Linked DNA regions of Homo sapiens: all the other regions are reported to be linked to region 1. Evidence: microRNA targets listed by miRTarBase, many of them from high-throughput screens and not tested one by one. Region 1 holds a microRNA gene; each other region holds the end of a gene's coding sequence.
The links. Region 1 holds the annotated microRNA hsa-miR-3646 (AAAAUGAAAUGAGCCCAGCCCA, at 1,470-1,491, opposite strand). A microRNA usually pairs through its seed, bases 2 to 8, with sites in the 3' UTR of a target mRNA and lowers its output. Matches are read on the target gene's strand: a 7mer-m8 pairs with bases 2 to 8, a 7mer-A1 pairs with bases 2 to 7 and ends in A, and an 8mer does both.

Region 1 (3,155 bases):
AAGTGAAAATGACTCTGGATGTCTAATAAAAGACATTTATAACAACTGACCACACGCAGGACCAGGCCACACGCAGTGGAGGTGGGTAGCCATCCACTCAGGAGGGCTGCCAACCCCTCTCCCATCTGCCTGTCACAGACCTGAACTTTCACTGTGAGAGAGCTGTTCTCTCAAACACAGTGCCCTCTGGATGACACCTATGAGGAATCATAGTGCCTAAAATCTTAGGCTTTTGGGATAATGGAATCACTGACTAATACAACCACAGAAATGTTGGAACCTTAGACTGTAGTTCTCAATCTTTTTCTTGCCTCCAACTGTTCACACATGCATCAGGTTCCCATTCATAATCTTTCCCAGTCCACAAAATGGAAGTTGAAGTGGATGAGACAGGCTTAACCCCATTGAAAACTGGGTTTGGGAGAGGAGGGAGTATTTGCAGCTTAAAAAGCCCCTCTTGCCCTTGGAGAACCACTGATATCTAGATGTTAGAATTGCAGCGTTCAGAGCAGGCCTTGGGGACCACCCACTCCTGCATCGGGATCAGCAAGCCCAGATTTTCCAAGACAGCTCATGAGCCCAGACTAAGGTCCCATAAGGATGAGACATAGAAGATATTTCCAAGGGAGGGGGCAGAGAAAACAGGGGGCCAGGAGCAGATACAGGGGAAAGAGAGTCTACCAAAGCCTCCCCTCCCCTCCTTCTCAGTGGGCCCTGGAGCAAGCTGGGTCCTACGTTCCTGCTTCTGGGGTGTGCTGGGGTGATGGGGGTGAGGGGTGTTTGTACCGAACTAGCAGGACTAGACCAAGGTTTGGCTGGTACGGCACAACTGTGGGCTAGAAGGGAAGGTCTGGGACTAGTCGCAGAGCTGGGAAAGGTTGAGTTTAGAGGAGCAGGAAATGAAGAGATTCGAAAATGAACTCGTTACTTTTTTATTTTTTTTGAGAGAGTCTCGCTGTCTTGCCCAGTCTGGAGTGCAGTGGCATGATCTCAGCTCACTGCAACCGCCTCCTCTTGGGTTCAAGCAATTCTCCTGCCTCAGCCTTCCGAGTAGCTAGGACTACAGGCATGCACCACCACGCCCAGCTAATTTTTTTGTATTTTTAGTAGAGACGGGGTTTTACCATGTTGGTCAGGATGGTCTCGAACTCTTGACCTCAAATGATTTGCCTGCCTCGGCCTCCCAAAGTGCTGGGATTACAGGCCTGATTCACTGCGCCTGGCCTCAAGTTACTTTAAAGCAGTTAAAAGATTTTTGCTTCCCTTGCTTGGGCTGAAAACAATTTTAAATGTCCCTGGTATCTGGAGAGCATAAAATAATAGACAGTGCTGAAGTGTGGTCCAAATAGCAGAAGCTCTGGGACTTCAGATCTTCCAAGGATCAGTTGTGGGGCCCTAGGCAAGTTGCTTAACCATTGTGGGCCTCAGTTCCTTCATCCACAAAAAGGGAGGAATTGTAATAGGTTCAATGGGCTGGGCTCATTTCATTTTCACAACATTTTCCCATATAGGGTTGTCATGAAAATGAAATGAACCCAACCTACTGAAGTGTGGAAAAAGCACAGCCCAGTGACTGATACCTGCTGGTAGCAGGAAGCCTGGCAAGACCTTAATAAATGTTGTGCTCTGGTCTTCTCCTCCTTTGTCCAGGATGGGTCTGGGGTCTTGTTCCCATTTTCTAGAATGTGAAGACTTTGGAGATCACGTGATACCCACGAATGAATACTAAGGGAACTGGGGCATTTGTCCCTGGGACCGGAAGCTCAGGCATCGGGCTCCTCTGGCTGTCCCTTTTGTAAAGTTGGGATAGTGAGTACTCAGATGTTTGCAATATCATTCTCTATGCTTGTCCTAACGTTCGAAATATTATATTAAACACACACACACACACACACACACACACACACACAACGTGGCTGCTTTGTGGTGGCGCAGACAGGCAGGCAGGGGTGGTGGTTGCTGGGAGCCTGAGGAGCCAAGAGTGGGAGCTTATCTCTCTGAATCTTTCTCAAGACCAAGCCCAGCCGCTCCCTATGGTCAGATTTCCAGGCCCTCCCTCTTCTCAGCCATTAGCCAGTCACCCTGGGGCCTGCCACTGAGTCATAAAGTGTGGCTACAGTTGTAAATGACTGTCGGGGAGCTGTGGGTGCAGGTGGGGCAGTGGTGGTGGGGCGGGGAGGGCCGAGGCTCACCTTCCTTCTTCATGCCAGCCCGGAAGCATTTCTTGAGCCTGCAGTAGCGGCACTGGTTCCTCTTGTCTTTGTCCACCACGCACTGCCGGCTAAATCTGGGGAGGGCTTTGGATGGTTGGATGGAGAAGACACAACTTCCTCCTCTTAGGACAGAACTAGGGCCCTGGCTATCCAGTTGACCCCCCAACCTCAGTGCTCTCATCTCTTCATCCCGGGAGTTCTCTCTTGAACCCACCAGGAGCTGGAAAGGTGCTATGAACTCTCTAAGAGCCCAGTCCTGTCCTGCTAAACATGGGAAAACTGAGGCTCAGAGAGGCAACATGTGGTCCTGGGTCGCTCTGCTGGTTGGTGTTAGAGCTGAGTTGGGAACCTTGACCTCTGGAGTACCAGAGCCCTGCTATTTCCACCACATCCTATAAAAGCTCAGAACCCATAGCAGGCTCCTGGTTATGGCTCAGAGTTAATACTCGGTTCACATAAGCCTCTCTCTGGAGGGGGATAGGAAGTAGAGGCAGTGCCACACCGTGGTGATGGGTGGGGCCCTGAATGTTAACCCTGGCTCTGCCAGTGATTCAAGCTGGTTGACCTTGGGCAAATGCCTAGCCCTCCAAGCCACAGCTTCCTCCTCTATAAAATGGGAATAACAACAGTAACCATCTCACAGGGGTGTTGACAGGTGAAATGAAGTCATGCGCCGATGGGGCACAGTCTTTGTACATGACAAGTGCTCGCAATTGACAGCTGCTATGATTTTATTATTGTCATTACCCAGAACAGGAGATGCTTTCGAAAGAGGGCTCTCCAAGGCCTTGGGAAGACTTTGGGGTTGGTGGAAGCCCCTGGGGTAGGTGGAACGGCCTGGGGTCAATCTCCTATTTGTCCCAAAAACAGCACCAGACTGGAAGACGGGCTCATCTACTGAGGCTTCAGGAGAGGCCCCATGGAATGGGAAAAACAACAATG
Region 2 (3,155 bases), not on the chromosome of region 1:
AGAGGATCACTTGAGGCCAGGAGTTCAAGACCAGCCTGGGCAACATGGCGAGACCCTATCTCTGCAAAAAATAAAAAATTAGCCGGGTGTGGTGGTGTCTGTCTGTGGTCTCAGCTACCTGGGAAGCTGAGGTGGGAGGATTGCTTGAGCACAAGAGGTTGAAGCTGCAGTGAGCTGTGATTGTGCCACTGCACTGCAGCCTGGGTATCAGAGGGAGACTCTATCTCTGAAACAAACAGACAAAAACTAATTCTTCATTGAGAATCATGACTTGACTGTAATGTAATATTGTTAAGTAGTAATCATTTTGCAGTTTTATTAATTTTATCTCTTCTTTTTCTTGTTGTGAATAGCAAGAAAGTACGACTATCAGCAGCCACAAAACCAAGCTGACAGTGTGCAACTCTCATTGGAATGAAACCTCAGAAAAAGAGCAACAGAAGTAATTGTTTCAAGCTCCTGATTCTTTCTACTAAATCATGAACAGCTTTAAAAACATTTCTGTCTGCATAAAATTATTTTACTTGTAACTTTTCCCCAATTGTTCTGTGCATTGTTTTGCCTTTTTAAATTACATCTCCAAGTGGCTCAAAAGGCCTTGACACAGGGAACCTGCACATATCCAGGATATGTGTAACCAGCGATGGTGACTTGACCTTGCCAAGACCTGTGATTCCTTCAGGATACAATCAGTGAGAAATAAAAACACATCTTGGGAAGTGGGAATCCTGGAGTTTATGCCATTTGCAATATTAAAAAATAAAAATGCAAGTTATTATTTCAATAATAACTTCCTGTTTCATTGTATTCTGTGAGTGATAAGTGTCAGATCAATAACAGATTAATTTGTTGTTAACAGCTCTTTTTTTTTTTTTTTTTTTGAGACAGAGTCTGTTGCCCAGACTGGAGTGCAGTGGCACAATCTCTGCTCACTGCAACTTCCACCTCCCGGGTTTAAACGATTCTCCTGCCACAGCCTCCTGAATATTCTGTTAACAGCTCTTTAATTAATGATCTTTGCTTCTTCAGAACTTGTATGGTAGACCGTCTTTTCTACAGCATGATGCATACTCCTGTGCTAATTTTAGAAGCTTTCTGTAACTAGATTTTTCCTCATTATGCTCCCAGGAGCGAGTTTGTTTTTATCCCCGTTTCATTTCTACCAGGTAGCTCTACTTTAGGCCATACTGGGGACCTGCTGTTGAATAAATGGATGCCTGTGTATTGGTGTTGGCAACTCTGCGGTAGTAGTGCTACCACTGGCGAGGCAGTATTACTGCCACTGGTGAATGTTGCTGTCTGGTTACTGCTGCATTTTTGGCATGCTAAGCTTTCCTAAAGAGCCTCATATCTTTTCCCATGCTGTACTGTACAATGAAATGTTTTTACCTAATTTTTCATGTTTATTTAAATAAAAGCTGACTGGGTAATAGTGGGGAAGTTTAATTGTCCACATAAGTCAAAAGAATCCGTTTTTGAACTAGAGCTATTTTCAATTATAAGAGTGAGCTGGCTGGGCACGGTGGCTCACGCCTGAAATCCCAGCACTTTGGGAGGCCAAGGTGGGAGGATCACGAGGTCAGGAGTTTGAGACCAGCCTGGCCAACGTGGTTAAACCCAATCTCTACGAAGAATACAAAAATTCGCTGGGTGTGGTGGCATGCGCCTGTAATCCCAGCTACTCAGGAGGCTGAGGCAGGAGAATTGCTCGAATCTGAGAGGTGGAGGTTGCAATGAGCCAAGATCACACCACTGCATTCCAGCCTAGGCGACAGAGCAAGACTTCGTCTCAGAAAAAAAAAAAAAAGTTAATAATGGCTTCAAGTATTTCATTTTCCCCTTATTGTGAAATAAACTATATACATTTTAAATGGAAATTAAGGTTTAGACCAAATAAAATCATTCAGGGAAATTGCATTTACTTTTAAAAATGTGTTGTTCAAAAATGTATATATAGTACAAAGTGAATTGACCAAACAGAATAATTCTTAACTCACAAAGGAGTTTGAGCGCACTTCCTACATGTTGAATTTAAATCTGACTAAAGGATTGTAAACAGTTGTAATTATGGGTTGTAGTAACAGAGCAACAAGGGGACAATCTTCTAAACTTGCCTTTGCCTAGGAGAGCTACTGTATATTTCCACAAGTGAATTTAATCAGCAGTAGGAGTGGTTTACTCGTCACTGACATGTGGCACAATCTGGACAAATTACACAAACTGGCTATCTCAGATGTGTAAAATTAATGTACATAAATAAACGTAAGTCACACAATGAATTTCCTTTGTGTCCACTAGATAGAGATGGTCCTAACTACAAACTAGTAGATTATTTGATGAGCATCAAGCCCTGGCAAGTGACAGGAGATGAATTCCTCTCCGTTTTTTCCTTAAAGCAAACTGATGGGAATTGCACACACCCCACTGGCAGGAACAACAGCAAGCCGGCTTTGAAGTCTCTTCCCTGCTTCAACAGCTGAATTGGGGAGAGCGCAAGCCCTGCAGCCACACTTCAAAGCGGCGCTGACTGGCTGTCCTGCTTCTACCCAACATCCACCTGAGACTCAACAGAACTGTTTTCTTTGGAAGAAAAATGGAACTACTAATAAGCTAGTAATTAACCCTTGTATTCTTTTTCTGGTTTCATCTTCCTGTTTTAATGTGTAAGATATTCAGCAGTAAGCACTGGTCAGCCTGCCCTGGTGCACAGCTTGAGTGTGTTAAATAACTGGCTGTTTAGCTGATGCCAGCCAGCTGCGTGAAGGGGAGAAGGCCGCCTCCAAGGACACAGATGTTTGCTGTTGACCTCACGCTGTGTCTGGTTGAGTTATTCATGATTCATCAGAAAATGACATGCAAGGTTTATGGTAAAACTGCTGTACAATCAGAAGTATTTTAAGTATGCATTAGAAGTAAGATAAAATAGTAATAAAAATAGTTTCAGATGTTAAGATGATACAAGAATAAATTTAACCTAGAAAATAAAGGGAGAAGGAATAAAAGAACGTGGTATAGAGCCAAGTAATTCATTCAGTGGTTGGTTCTGGAGTGTTTCCCCTGTGCTTGCTGTATGTGATCCTCTTTCATAGGCTATTCTAATAGCGGAACTAGAATAAGAGGTGCCAGAAAACCAACGGAAATAGGAAGGGCACTGA
Region 3 (3,000 bases), not on the chromosome of region 1:
TGGAGTGCTCGGAGCAGAAGGCGCCGCCGGCCGGGGAGGACCCGCGCCAGTTCGACAAGGCGGTGGCGGTGGTGGCGCACCAGCAGCTCTCCGAGGGCGAGCACTACTGGGAGGTGGATGTTGGCGACAAGCCGCGCTGGGCGCTGGGCGTGATCGCGGCCGAGGCCCCCCGCCGCGGGCGCCTGCACGCGGTGCCCTCGCAGGGCCTGTGGCTGCTGGGGCTGCGCGAGGGCAAGATCCTGGAGGCACACGTGGAGGCCAAGGAGCCGCGCGCTCTGCGCAGCCCCGAGAGGCGGCCCACGCGCATTGGCCTTTACCTGAGCTTCGGCGACGGCGTCCTCTCCTTCTACGATGCCAGCGACGCCGACGCGCTCGTGCCGCTTTTTGCCTTCCACGAGCGCCTGCCCAGGCCCGTGTACCCCTTCTTCGACGTGTGCTGGCACGACAAGGGCAAGAATGCCCAGCCGCTGCTGCTCGTGGGTCCCGAAGGCGCCGAGGCCTGAGCCGCCGGACGGGTAGTGGAGGGGCGCGGGGGCCTGGGTTGAAGCTTAGGTCTCCTTGGTCGGGTCTGACGGGAGAAGGGTGGGGAGCGGGTTGCCAGGGCCCAGGGGGCTGGGAACTGGGGGATCTCCCAGAATACTGACAAGCGTGGGGTAGGACTGGCTTGGTGGCTCATGCCTGTAATCCCAGCACTTTGGGAGACGGAGGCGGGTGGATCACCTGAGGTCAGGAGTTCAAGACCAGCCTGGCCAACATGGTGAAACTCCTCTCTACTGAAAATACAAAAATGAGCTGGGCGCGGTGGCATACGCCTGTAATCCCAGCTAGTTGGGAGGCTGAGGCAGGATAATTGCTTGAACCCAGGAGGTGGAGGTTGCAGTGAGCAGACATTGCGGCACTGCACTCTAGCCTGGGTGACAAGAGTGAGACTCTGTCTCAAAAAAAAAAAAAAGTGTGGGGGTTGGCATGGCCTGGGGACTGCTGGTGAGGGGTTGGAGTGACGCTGGGGACAAGACCCAGTGGGGTAGGGAGATCTGGAGTCAGGTCAGTGGGGAAATCAGAATTTGGGAACCAGGAGGCCTGAGAATTCCAGGAAGAAACTAAGGTTGAGCGAGGGAGGGACAGGGCCAGGTTGGGGGATTGATGGGAGGAGCTTGAGAACCTGTAGATAAGGGGCTCCTTTTGCCTCACACTCCCCTCCTCCTTAGGCCTTGGGTCCCCCGCTCCAGATTCACCTTACCCAAAAGCCTTCTCCTTAGTTCTCCACCTTAGGCATGCATTAAAATCACCTTTTTAAAGCCCTTAGCCATGACTTGTTAAAGCATAGGGTGCTAAGTTTCTGATTTAGTAGGTTGGACAGGTCAAAAATGCTCATTTCTTTTTTTTATTTCTTTTTTTTTTTTTTTTTTTTTTTTTTGAGACAGAGTCTTGCTCTGTCACTCAAGGCTAGAGTGCAGTGGTGCCATCTCGGCTCACTGCAACCTCTGCCTCCAGGGTTCAAGCAATTCTCATGCCTCAGCCTCCCAAGTAGCTGGGACTACAGACGCCCGCCACCACACCTGGCTATTTATTTTTATTTTTAGTAGGGGTTTCACTATGTTGGCCAAGCTGGTCTCGAACTCCTGACCTCAAGTGATTCACCCGCCTTGGCCTCCCATAGTGCTGGGATTACAGACATGAGCCACTGCACCTGGCTGAAAATGCTCATTTTTTTTTTTTTAATTTAGTTTTTGTAGAAATGGTGTCTCGTTACATTGCCCAGGCTGATCTTGAACTCTTGGCCTCAGGTGATCCTCCTGCCTTGGCCTTCCAAGTGCTGGGATTACAGGTGTGAGCCACCACGCCCTGCCAAAAATGTGCATTTCTAGCAGGTTCCCAGGTGACGCTGCTGGCCACAGGGGCTGACGCTGCGGGAAGCCCTGACCTAGTGCACAACCCATTGGGCTCTTCACTGTCAGTGTAGAGGCATAGGTCCAAAATATGTTTCCCCAGTCAAAAACATGTAAGGTTTGCACCAGGAGTGGAAGGAAACAAACAAACATAAACCAAAGCAAAGACACTTAAGGGCTGGGTACTCATGCCTGTAAACCCAACACTTTGGGAGTTTGAGGCAGGAGGCTCATTTGAGGCCAGGAGTTTGAGACCAGCCTGGGGAACATAGTGAGACCCTGTTGCAACAAAAACCAGAAAAACAACAAAAAGAAGACATTGGAAAATGGCTGGAGCTGATTCTAGGTGAATAAACAACCCTCGACTTAACTTGCTTTGCCTCTGGGATATGTTTATCGAGCGTCTTGAACGTTGAGGAAGCCAGCCAAGAGAAAGAGCCTGATGCCAAGGTCACACTGGTCCCTGCTGCTCATGGGGAAGAGAAGGCCCCCAACTAGATGTCCCAGAACTGGCCGCTCCCCACTTACTTGCTGGTTCACACCTTCTTTGGTTTTAGCGCACAGGGCATTTCTTGGGCTCTGGAGTAACCACTGAGGCCAGAGTGAGAGTCCCTCTTCCCTGGAGGGAGAGGCCTTTGGGGATCCAGACAGGCTTCTCTCCTGAGGGAAGACGCTGGCCTGGGGTCACTCATTTTCACGGGGAGGGTGTGCTGGCGGGATGGGTGGAAGGGCCTGGGGCCCCGGCAGCCCATTGCGGAGGTTTTCTCGGGAGATGGTGGGTATGGGACTAAGGGTGAAAGGGAAGTTGTGAGTTGGGTAAGAAAGGCCTGAGGATCTGGCAGGGGAAGGCGGCACACCTGGGTGTGTCTCCCAGAGGAAGGCCTGTGGAGCCCTGGCTTCAGGAGACAGAAGAGAGGATTAACGGTAGAAGCTCTTTCATGTTAGAAAATAAAACAATATAGCTAAGGGATTATTTGGTTGTAAAATCCAACACCATTAATAAAACTGTTATATTCTGACTCCTTCCTCATTAAATCCACATGAAAAGACATGTGACCTACTGCAAGGCCTCCTAATTGCCCTCCAGCCTTTAATCCTGACTTGGTAATGT
Region 4 (3,155 bases), not on the chromosome of region 1:
TTAGCAGACAACTGAAAAAGTTATTTTCTAATTCTTGAAATGTACACTACATCCTCTCGCAATTATATTAAAAATGACAAAGGTTTGGATTGTTCTGAATTGCTTTGTTAGCTTTCAGAGCCTTCACAAATTGAAATACCATTTAAAATGTACTTTATCAAATTTATTGTTACTGATGACTGCACACTGAGCATATATTTTTTCCCATACCTTATTAAATATAGCAGGAAATCTTTGAAAAATTAAAAAGATAAAAAGATACAAGCTTGTAGAATCTTCATGTTTCAGAGTTTTTTCTTTACATGCAGTTTAAAGGATTGTGTTCATGTTAATTGAATAATCTCTATTTAATTCCACCCTTTTGAGGTTTTATACTTTTGCATTACAGTTGATGGAAATACCTGGGCACAAGTAATTGCCTTATACCCAACTTTAGTAGAATGCATCACCTGTTCTTCTTCAGAAGTCTGTTCTGCACTTAAAGAGGCACTAGTTCCTTTTAAGGATTTCATGCAGCCACCAGCATCCAGAGTTCAAAATGGAGAATCTTGACCGGCTACAATATATTTGAAAGCAGGAAGATAGTCTAAAAAATGTTTGCTCCTAATTGAGTCTTCTGTGAGAAGGACATTTCTTACTGCAGATAATTCTTGGCAGCTGTTGTTGGCCTCCTTTAAATTCTACTTACCTGAGTTCAGTAATTCATATTACAGGCTTGCACATCAACAAAGGCTCCTGAATGAACAGCAGTGTAAGGCTTTAATAAATTAAACTGATGGGAGGGATAATTAACACTACAGTATACATGCTACCATATCTCCAGTTGGTGATTTAAAGTGAGCTTATGTACAGTTTGTGGTGTATGTGTTAATGATGTACTTTTTAAAAAGAAAGAAGAGATATTTCAATTCAGTCAGATTTATTAGTCTGGTGTTTTTGCACCCTTTTTCAAGTACAAAATCGTACTAGAATTTTATGCAAGATGGTACTGTAACATTCCATATTATCTATAACCAGCCTTTGTTAACAAAGGGAACTGATATACTTGTGTGTATAATAAATGGTACAGTTCTGTATAAAATAGTGCATTTATTTAAATTTTAAAAGTATTGATAATGTTAAATGCTTAAAGCTCTATTTATTATTAATACAAAATTGTTTGCTTACATTTTTACTTATAATTTGCCTTCATATGTGGCGGATAAGCTCACCATATGATCATGCAGTTAGCTTCATGCTTATTTTAAATGTATTATTAGTGACCATTAAACATCTGACCAGTAAGGTCATGTGAACACAGCAGCAAATAGTTTATGATTTGCTGATTTTGGAGCTTTGAAATATAGGTTCTTAATACATTGATACATATTGTAGCACTATGACTTCATCATACCTCATTTCTTTAAACAGCTCTCCAAGCTTTCACTGAAGTCTGTCTGTTTTTTATATTGGCTGTCTGGATTTTAAAGACTTTTCATATTTTATATTTCTACTGATTTTGTTTCCCCTAACAACATTTGTCACTGTCTTTGAATTATGACCCAGGCAAGATGATTTCAGATTTTCTAAAATCTTGCCTGTGAGGTTTTGTTCATATCAGTGCTTCATTTTGTAATGTCTTCTCAAGAAAAATACCTATGTTAACTCACAAGTATAAAATATGTGTGTATTATAAAACAATGAAAAGTGTATTTTTGGAGATAGTCAAGCATTTAGAAGTGCAGTGAACTTGCTGTCACGGAGTAAAATGCTAATTATGTTTCACTTTCCTAGCCTAGTGAAAAAGAAAAGTGCTCTTGAGTACAATACCTTAATTATTTCTTAAAATACTGACTTTGACCTAGCTCACTGTATTTTTTATTTAATGGATTATGGATTACAGTATTTTTCTTCTGAGTTAAATTTTCATAATTTATGTGAAGACACAAAGATGTTTAAAACAATGATTATTCATAAGAAATCATGATGGTCTCAGTATTATTTTAGTGTATTGGAAGGTCTTTGATCTTAATAGAATTTATAAATTTCAGCTTCTCCAGAATAATCATAAAACTGCAAAAAGATATTATAATTGAGTCATGATTGAGATACAGTTTTGAGGCTATTATAATTGTATAATTATTTAATTTGCATTATCTGTAAAATGTAGTAAGGTCTTTGAGGGGATATTTTTTATTTACATGAATTACTGAATTTCTATTTTATTATTTCACCTAAAATTAAGGTAAAATATGGCATTTCATAAGTTCTGCTTTCAGCATTTTCCTTAAAGTTGTAAAAAATCAAGCTATGTACTTATTTTCTATATTTGGGTGTGTTAAATTGAGGATTAGAAAAATCCACATAATCACTGATAAAGCATTGAAACAGAATAACCCAAGGGTAGTGTACCGATTCAGTAACATGTTAAAAATATTGCTATGCATTTATTCAAAGGAAAATGGTCTGTTCTTGAGAAATAAAAGATCAGTTGCAATTAGGATAATTAAATAGTTAAATATGAGTCAAGTGTATGCAATATACATTTATATGAACCAAAGCTTGCTTTATCAGGACCATGCCCTACAGTTCAAAACATAAACATAGTGAATGTGTTAATATCATATAATAAGGTAATAAATGCCAGTCTTAGTGTGAAGCAAGTGGGTGGCCCCCTTGGTAGTATAATTGGACAGGATTTTCCTCCAGAATATTTCCTGTCACCCTCCAAGAGTCACTACAGTAATTGATTGCTGGCATGGAACACATTGCCCTTGTCTTGTTAGTATGAATTGGGTTCTCCAGTGACTAGAAGAACTGGGGTGTGTGAAAGTATTCGATGCCAGGAGATTCAAAAAGGAAGCTCTCAAAGATAAGATCATTTTATGGCACAATTGAGTCTATAACCAGCCCTTTAAGCAGTAGTAAAAATGTCCTTTGTCATACTTACTAGAAATACTATGAGTTTTTTTTTTTTTTTTCATTTGAGACGGAGTCTCGCTCTGTCACCCAGGCTGGAATGCAGTGGCACGATCTTGGCTCACTGCAACCTCTGCTTCCCGGGTTCAAGCAGTTTCCTGCTTCAGACTTCCAAGTAGCTGGGATTACAGACATGCCACCATGCCAGGCTAATTTTTTTAATATTTTTAGTAGAGATGGGGTTTCACCATTTTGGC

Region 2: the mRNA of SMIM19 is a reported target of hsa-miR-3646. Seed matches in the 3' UTR shown: 7mer-m8 at 1,153-1,159 and 7mer-m8 at 1,829-1,835.
Region 3: the mRNA of TRIM72 is a reported target of hsa-miR-3646. The part of its 3' UTR that is shown has no 7-base or 8-base seed match.
Region 4: the mRNA of MON2 is a reported target of hsa-miR-3646. Seed matches in the 3' UTR shown: 7mer-m8 at 1,604-1,610 and 7mer-m8 at 2,959-2,965.

The regions. Positions count from the first base shown.
Region 1 is chr20:44,406,513-44,409,667 of GRCh38, reverse strand. MIR3646 (microRNA 3646) reads right to left here and starts at 1,548; the gene lies at 1,465-1,548. HNF4A (hepatocyte nuclear factor 4 alpha) reads right to left here. Exons shown (of 10, transcript NM_175914.5): 3 at 2,193-2,287.
Region 2 is chr8:42,552,191-42,555,345 of GRCh38, forward strand. It overlaps SMIM19 (small integral membrane protein 19), which reads left to right. Exons shown (of 4, transcript NM_001135674.2): 4 at 354-3,005. The coding sequence ends at 418. Among named protein-coding and RNA genes, the nearest start is that of SMIM19, 12 kb to the left of the region's middle. RefSeq lists an enhancer at 2,181-2,702.
Region 3 is chr16:31,224,253-31,227,252 of GRCh38, forward strand. It overlaps TRIM72 (tripartite motif containing 72), which reads left to right. Exons shown (of 7, transcript NM_001008274.4): 7 at 1-3,000. The coding sequence ends at 503. Among named protein-coding and RNA genes, the nearest start is that of PYDC1, 8.6 kb to the left of the region's middle.
Region 4 is chr12:62,592,198-62,595,352 of GRCh38, forward strand. MON2 (MON2 regulator of endosome-to-Golgi trafficking) reads left to right here. Exons shown (of 35, transcript NM_015026.3): 35 at 389-3,155. The coding sequence ends at 552. Among named protein-coding and RNA genes, the nearest start is that of MIRLET7IHG, 9.0 kb to the right of the region's middle.